2 separate regions of the Homo sapiens genome follow, and region 1 is linked to region 2. The links come from fine-mapping of genetic effects on gene expression. A gene starts in region 2. The other region holds a variant in brackets. All regions are shown on one strand. Distances are from middle to middle. Region 1 overlaps RELN (reelin). Region 2 holds the start of DNAJC2 (DnaJ heat shock protein family (Hsp40) member C2).

Evidence for each region. PIP is the estimated chance that this variant, and not a neighbour inherited with it, causes the effect.
Region 1: its variant is the best candidate, but not a certain one, in a credible set for the expression of DNAJC2 in prefrontal cortex (ROSMAP, PIP 0.52).

What each region holds. Positions count from the first base shown.
Region 1 is chr7:103,474,198-103,478,597 of GRCh38, forward strand. It overlaps RELN (reelin), which reads right to left. Exons shown (of 65, transcript NM_005045.4): 64 at 4,192-4,197. The region is part of intron 2 of SLC26A5-AS1 (SLC26A5 antisense RNA 1); the gene reads left to right. Among named protein-coding and RNA genes, the nearest start is that of SLC26A5, 30 kb to the left of the region's middle. The variant G/A (reference allele first, on the strand shown) is at 2,137.
Region 2 is chr7:103,342,410-103,346,809 of GRCh38, forward strand. DNAJC2 (DnaJ heat shock protein family (Hsp40) member C2) reads right to left here and starts at 2,358. Exons shown (of 17, transcript NM_014377.3): 1 at 2,150-2,358. The coding sequence starts at 2,213. It also overlaps a transcript of PMPCB not described here. RefSeq lists an enhancer at 2,301-2,540.

The DNA.
Region 1 (4,400 bases), 130 kb after region 2:
AAATATCTCAAAGGAAAAGACATAAATTGAATTTCATCAGATATGTATAATCAAAAAGCAATAGCATCTGTGCTAAAATATTGATACAAAGACATCAAATTGATACATATTTTATAAAATAAAAAAGGTACTAATAACATCCCCTGCTAGATTTCAATAATATCAAAATGCTAGAAACAATAAAATGGAAACAAAGAATATATCCTGAAGACATTATAGAGAAAAAGATTTCAAAAAAATCAGGTTTTGTCTTTAGGCAGATTTACTATCCTCCCCCTCCCATCCCCTCCATGTGACAATATTACATGTATCAACTAAGTTGATCAGTTTCAGTGTCACAGTTGAATGACCCAAATTTATCCATTTATTAGCTGCTATAAGTACTAACTGCTGCCTATGTAAAATTGAGTTACAAAAAAACCCCCAAGGAATTAATGTATTGAACTAATCAAGTGTCAAGAAAAATTATCCTGTTGCTCCTTTATTCACAAAATCTTGGGACTGGAACTAGCTGTGTTACTGCCAGCATCCTCAGTCGCCTTATAGTTCTTTCCCTGAGCTATTATAGTGGCCCCCTGAACTAGCCTCCTTAACTTTTTTCCTTTTATGAAAAAAAAAAAAAACTCCACTGAAAGGAAACCCCTGAAATACTAAGAAAGTATAACTGAATGCATAATTGTATACATGTGCATGTATACCTTCCTACACATACATGCAGTTGATTTTGCACACCAGATTCAGTAAACTTTTCCTCAAACACTGGCTTCACTTTGCCCAAAACCATGCAGAATCCTCTTATCTATGGAGCAACAGCTAAGCCAACTTAAACAGACGTTTCAAGTCCTCTTCATGCTTAATCTTATTCTGCCCTTTATTTTTCTACATTCCTATACAAACTGCTCTACTCAAACGCCTTGAGTCCTTTCTACCCGCCTCATTGGCCAGCTGTCAACATCACTTCCTAGATTCTACGTGTTCAAGTATTACATTTTCTTTGTTTACTCCCTCTATAAGTGAACTTTTTTTTTTTTACTTTGAACTCTCATAGTGCTCATTTCCTGCTTTGAAGGAGTTTGTGTTCATATCTTGGCTCCCCACAACTAAACTTTTGTTGGTATGGGGGCCAGTCCCCCAACTCCCCCCACCCCCGCACCATAGCACTGAGCCTCCTGCCTGACCCGTGCATGGGTGGTCAAGGCATGTTTGTTGAACTTATGGTGACTTACTGATTGGATTCCTGCTGTAAATCATTACTCTATAACTATAAGGAATAATTGCAAAGTTAAAGCAATGAAAATTATTCTGTTAAAACACGTTTAAAGGTATAAGGTACTCAAAGAGAATTTAAAATAGTTAAAATATTTTACATAAAAAAAGATGAAGTTAGAACACTCAAGATATTTTGTTATCTCAATGCAACCTAGATTGACATGAAAGTTACCTTAATATATGGGAACAAAAGAACATTCAGTTTTAACAAAACTTGATGTGCTTACTTAACAGCTTTAAAGCAACGTCTCCATATAATTATTTACTTATTATGGAGCTGATTGAAAGTCTCCATCTTTATAGGTGAGAAAATAAATACTAGCAGGTTGCAGATCTTTAGTGCCCTAAAAACTAGTCCAAGGTAGAAGCTTAAAACCAATTTAGGGGACATTTTGAATCACTGGATGTTCTTTTTTTAAATAACATTTTTTTCTTAAAAGATTTTAAATATATTTCTAATTTTTTTGGTAGAGACGGGGTCTTGCTATGTTGGCCAGGCTGGTGTCGAACTCCTGGCCTCAAGTGATCCTGTTGCCTTGGACTCCCACAGTTCTGGGATTACAAGCATGGCCACTGTGCCTGGCCTGGGTGCTCTTTAATTTTGAAAAAGTTTATGTATCAGTATCATATCTTTGGATTCCTGAGAATGTTGATATGCATATAGTAATGGACTTGCTATAGATGCCTAGTGTTTATATAGTCACATTAAAAATGGCAGCTGGGTGCAGTGACTCACACCTGTAATCCCAGCACTTTGGGAGGCTGAGGAAGGCAGATCATGAGGTCAGGAGATCAAGACCATCCAGCTAACAGAGTGAAACCCCATCTCTACTAAAAATACAAAAAATTAGCTGGGTGTTGTGGCAC[G/A]CCAGGCATGGTGGTACGCGCCTGTAGTCCCAGCTACTTGGGAGGCTGAGGCAGGAGAATTGCTTGAACCTGGGAGGCAGAGGTTGCAGTGAGCTGAGATTGTGCCACTGCACTCCAGCCTGGGGCGACACGGTGAGACTCTGTCTCAAAAAACAAACAAACAAACAAACAAAAAAACCACACTATCAAAGCATCGTGGAAACTAGGTGGTAATTTGGTATGTGAAATATAAAAATCTTTTGAGTCAGTTAGGTTGAAATCTAATGAAGTGGATATTTCCAGTTTATGAGCCTTTGAAAATCAACCATTATGGCAAGCTATACTAAAATGCTGTCTGCCTCTAAGACCACTTAATAAATTGACATGGTTACTAAACAGTTATTGTACCTTCTAAAATGTCTAACAGCATTGGGAATTAGGGGAATTTTTAACATTTATCTTATATTTACTCATTTTTTGGTGTGATATATTTGTGAGCCTATTTTTTGTTTTTGATACATTTTGATGTACAGCTATAGATAACCTTATAACTGAAATAAGAAGTGCAATGAACTTTTAAAGATTTATTTATTCACTGCAATTACCAGAGAAAGTAATTTTTATTTTAAGTTCAATAAAAGGAGGTAATGTTCATCCCAAGGCACATCAGCTATGCCACTTGACATATCAATTTGCTTTGGTTGTGGATAGAACTAGGTCCATTTTTAAATTCTTCCATTATGAGTAAGTAATTGAAAGAAGGGAGAATGAACAACAAAGGCTTCTTGGAAATGATAATGTAAATGTCCATTATTGCCAAGGGAGTTTAGGGACTTAGATGGCATATAGAATTATAACGTGTTTCCTTGTTTCTGCATAGGAAATATGGCCATTGCAAGATCTTTGAATAACTAGTGACTCTGTGCTCTTTTGAACTGTTACTCTTTAAAGGAGACACAATCTTAGTTCATTTATTATGATGAAAACAATTCAATTGATTTTTTAATGGATTCTAAAGGAAATGGAGGAGATAGAGAATTGATACTAATTTGAGCTCATAGAAATATAGGCATTTCTACTTGTCAGTAATTTATCACCAAAACATATGGTAGAACAAATAATGATTTATATGAATGCAGACATAAGAATCCAGTGGACTGTTCAACATATCTTAGAAATATTGGTGAGTGTAAGGCAGGAAGCTGCCATTCAAACTATCACTGAAACTTCCCTGCATAGAGGATGCCACACATTTGACTTAAAGGCCATGCATTTTCAGGAAGGCTATGCATAAATAAGTGCAGACACAAACATCTCACACATACTGAAGATTTCATATTTCTCTTCTCTGCTAAATGGGGATGAGAATAATATCCAATAATGTGCACCTCAGGGAGCTGTAAGGATTAAATGAAAACTAGCACTATATATAGATGTTCAATAAATTATAACCATTTTGCCTTCTTAAATTTTAAAGAATCTCAGAGGACAAATACAAGAATATATTAAAAGTGGCCAATCTTACCTAAGGACAAGATCTAGAACTCCTAAGTATTATGAATACATCTACTCCGTCTGCCAATTCAGTTATTAACTTAGAGGAGAATTGGTAAGTCAAGGGACCCTCATGCATCTTCAGCATAGTAGGTCTTTTGAAAGACATTCCATTTAATCAGAGTCCCTAAATCTTTTGCACACATTTCTATTTTCCCTTGTCCCTCATAACAAATTTATCAACTGTGAGCACTTCAAGGGCACCCAATACGGTGTCAAGCACAGAGCAGAATCTAAGTCAAATCTGTTGCCCAATGATGAAATGCTGACTAGCACTCTGGTCTATGCTGTTGTGCCCTATATTGTATATATTAGGGACTTATCTCAATTTGACTGACTCCGAATTTACATGGAAATAAGTTTCAAATGTTCCACTATATACCAGTATCATTTATTACTGTTTTCATAGATTTTTTTTTTTTTTTAGTTGCAAAGGTGCTTTACAAAACTTCTCAGTTAAGTTTGGTGTCACTGATGAAACTATTAGTAAACAGTTCCCCAGATTTAGTAAGGAGGACTTACCTTACTCTAGTGGAAAACCAATGACAGCAAATAATGAAATATAACACAAGTTAAAAAATGCCTTTCAATGCATGCAGCACTGTGATTAGTCATAAAAGTCTGATCAGGTTTAGACGCAATATAGGATTTTTCATCTCTTTTGAAAATAAAAATTAAAGAAGTTATTTCTTATTCTTCTATACCCAAGATCTACATATACTTTTCTATGT
Region 2 (4,400 bases):
ATTCTTGTGCCTCAGCCTTCCAAGCAGCTGGGATTACAGGCATGCGCCACCATGCCCAGCTAATTTTGTATTTTTAGTAGAGATGGGGTTTCTCCATGTTGGTCAGCCTGGTCTCGAACTCCCGACCTCAGGTGATCTGCCTGCCTCGGCCTCCCAAAGTGTTGGCATTACAGGCGTGAGCCACTGCACCCACCTGGACAATTTTTTTTTTTTTTTTGGGACGGAGTCTTGCTCTGTCACCCAGGCTGGAGTGCAATGGCGCGATCTTGGCTCACTGAAAGCTCCGCCTCCCGGGTTCAAGCGATTCTCCTGCCTCAGCCTCCCGAGTAGCTGGGACTACAGGCACCCGCCACCACCCCCGGCTAATTTTTTGCATTTTTAGTAAAGACGGGGTTTCACCATATTAGCCAGGATGGTCTTGATCTCCTGACCTCGTGATCCACCCACCTCGGCCTGCCAAAATGCTGGGATTACAGGCGTGAGCCACCGCGCCCGGCCTAGACAAATAATTTTAATAAAGTAATAAATAGTGATAAATTGTCACGAAGAGCTAGCCTCACCAAAAATAAAAAATCTAAAAACAACTCAAACTATCTTTTTATTTTTTGAGACGGAGTTTTGCTCTTGTTGTCCAGGCTGTAGTGCAATAGCGCAATCTCGGCTCACTGCAACCTCCGCCTCCCGGGTTCAAACGATTCTTCTGCCTCAGCCTCCCAAGTTGCTGGGATTATAGGCGCCCGCCACCACGCCCAGCTACTTTTTTGTATTTTTAGTAGAGACAGGGTTTCACCCTGTTAGCCAGGCTGGTCTCGAACTGCTGACCTCAGGTGATCCACCTGCCTCGGCCTCCCAAAGTGCTGGGATTATAGACGTGAGCCACCGCACCCAGACAACTCAAACTGTCTTAATTATTAAAATCTTGAATATAGCTCTTAAAAATTTTAAGAATTCACTAACAAGAATTTGTCCTGAAAGCAATTTTCCAAGCAGCAAATGGGAATTTACTAATGCAGCTAAGCTGTAGTGGAACAAGCTCTCAATCTGAAACCAGACACTCTGGGTTTTAGACTAGGTCTGACAGTGGCTATGTGACCTGAAATGAATCAGGATGTCTTCACCTGTAAAATGGGAACAATACCTATTTATCTCATTCAGTTCCTAGGAAGCTTGAATGAGACCACAGAAACTCTCTGAAATTACAAACTTGTAGTAAAGGTATCATCTATTCCTGGGAAGTGGGGGTAAATCACTGTACATGTGTATACTAGCAATTCAAAAAAGGAAAATCCCTGAACAACTTATTTTAAGATTTCCTCCACCTTACACAGGAGAGGATTAAAACACTGTCAAAAAGGTACTACCTGTGTAGTATGGGTGTGTGGCTTTTAAGAACACTGCCTTTTAAGCCTTTTGCTCTAGTTGTAAGAGGCACACGGAGACACATAAATGCAACACGTGCCATGGGTTATGTTCAAAATCACATTCAACAAGCGCCTATGTGACTGGCTATGGGAATTACTGTAGATCACTGGACCTGAAGACTCTTAAGTTTACAATACTCATGACTGTCCTGGGCCATAAAACTAAAACCTACAGCAGCAGGACAAGTTTCACTTGTAATAACTGCCTTTCAAAGTCTACGCGGATCTTTTCAGCAGCACAGTCTTTGAACACCGAGTATGAGGAGCGGTGTCTGAGTTGTGACATTTAAAAAACAAGGCCGGAGCAAACGTAGAGAGGGAGAAAGTTGTTTAAGAGAGCGCCAGTAGCAAAGCTTTGTACGACCCCAGGCACGTGGGGTGCTCGCTGCGCGTAGTCTTTCCACCGTAGGCAAGGAGATGCTTATGAGAACCTTTCTGGGGTGCTGGGGGGTTCCGTCCCGAAATGCTCAGCCCAATCCATGAGTCAGCAGCGGCGAGAGGAGGAAGCAACGGTAGGAGCAAAAGGAAGGCACCCCTCACCCTCCTTCCTTCTAATCTAGGGTAGGATTACTTTAAAACACGGAGCAAAAAGGCACTCGTCACGGCCCCATACGGCCCCGGGGCTAGTCGCCAGGGTCAAGGGTAGAGAGAGCCCAGGGTTGCCGAGGCGGAGGACTGAGGCAGGGGCAGCTGAGGTGAGAAGGAACCGAGGTTGGGTGGGCACTTACCAGAGGTCAGAGCGTGGGTGATGGCGGTGCCCCGGCCGTCCGCGGCGCTTGGCAGAAGCAGCATGATGGCGCCGGGTCTAGCCCGGTGGGCGCAGCGGCTCACGTCCCGGGCGGAGGGCGCTTAGGGTCCCCTCCAGCTCTACCTCTCACTCCGAGCCTCGCGCCTTGGCTCTAAGACGCCCAGGAACCGGCGCATGGAGACGACCAGTAAGCACTTCCGGGATGGATCTTTCGTGGTGTGGAGGCCAGTCTCACACCCTCCCACCCCCGCCAACGTGTGCGGTAACCTAGTTCTATACTGACTGAGATCCGGCTGGAGACCAAGTCGCACGAGAGAATGGTTCCTAGGCGCATCAGTTTTCCTGTAAAAAGGATTATATTCCACGTCCCAGTGCAATACATAGAACATAACCTTTAAAAGCAGTTCTTTTTATATTATCTTTAAGTTCTTACTGCTTTATGTATTAATCTGAACCTAATCAGTGATTTTCCCAGGAGCGCTATACTTTTAAGTAAAAAATGAAAATACCTGTATGAACCAGTATCGACGACTAGTATATACATTTGCGGAGAATTACGTACGTGTATTTGTGATACATTTGTGTTTAACTTGATGATGATAATAGCAGCTAATATTTGTCGTGCTATTACTAATTTACCTGCATTATATCTTTTAATACTCGCTTGGAGAAGAAACCTCTCTCTAGTGTGTTAGATTGTATTCCAAGGCCAGCAATATTTTTACCTTGTTCTAATGAAGTTTTTATTCAAGATATTCCCAATTATAGGACTCTGGGACTTAATTTTTTAATGTATAATAAAATCAATTGTATTCCTACTATATGCTTCCTTCTAAGACTGCAGTCAAAAGCAAAAACTAGCAAAAACAAACAGTGGGTAAAGGCTCACCCCCAACAGCAGTATCTGAAACAGGTTCAATAAAATAAACTTGATATGCCACTCTTTAGCAAGGACCACCAGAAATTAGTAAATTAGAAAATAACTTACTAATTTCATTATATTTTCACAATTAAAGTTTTTAAATATATTATATATATATATATGTATATTTTTTTTTGTAGAGACAGGGTCTCACTATGTTGCCCAAGGTGGTCTTGAACTCCTGGCCTCAAGGGATCCTCCTGCCTCAGTCTCCCAAAACTCTGGGATTAGAGGCGTGAGTCACTGTGCCAGGCCAATTAAATACATTTAATTGGTCTGTATATCTGCTGCATGATAAAATTGTCACTTCAAAACTGACTTTTCAAAAATTGAACTAAGGGAGGCTGAGGTGGGAAGATCGTTGAGGCCGGGAGGTGGAGGTTGCAGTGAGCTGAGATCACACCATTGCGCTCCAGCCTGGGTAACAGTGAGACCCCGTCTTTAAAAAAAAAAAAATTGAACTAATCTTCTGCCCCAAAACCTCTTCCTGATCCCTACTAATGCAACCACTGTTAAAACATGCTCCAAGGTGCAAAGTAACCTGACTCCACTTTCTTCATATTAATATATTTTTTTCCTCACACCTCCTCCCATTCAATTTTACCATTAACTCTAACATGGGTTTTTGTTTTTTTGTTGTTTTCTTTTCTGAGACAGAGGCTTGCTCTGTCGCCCAGGCTGGAGTGCAGTGGCCTGATTTCGGCTCACTGCAATCTCTGCCTCCCAGGTTCAAGCGATTCTCCTGCCTCAGCCTCCCGAGTAGCTGGGATTACAGGTGCGTGCCACCACGCCCAGCTAATTTCTGTATTTGTAGTAGAGACGGGGTTTAGCCATGTTGGCCAGGCTGGTCTCCAACTCCTGACCTCATGATCTGCCTGCTTCAGCCTCCCAAAGTGCTGGAATTACAGGGGTGAGCCACGGTGCCCGGTCGGGGGTTTTGTTTTTTAAAAAAATTGTGCTAAAACACACATAACATGAAATTTACGATCTTCACCGTTTTTAAGTTTACAGTAATGTTAAGTACATTCACATTATTGTGTAACCACCCTACAAAACTATTTTTATCTTACAAAACTGAAACTCTATACCCATTTAATCTCTTACAAAACTGAAACTATGCCAGTGGAAAAAACTGTCCACTGGAAACCATCCTTCTACTTTGTCTTTAGGAATTTGACACCTCTAGGTACTTCATATTTGTGGAATCATATAGTATTTGTCTTTTTTGTGACTGACTTATTCACTTAGCATAATGTCTTCAAGGTTCATCTGTGTTGTAGCTTATACTAGAATTTCATTCCTTTTTAAG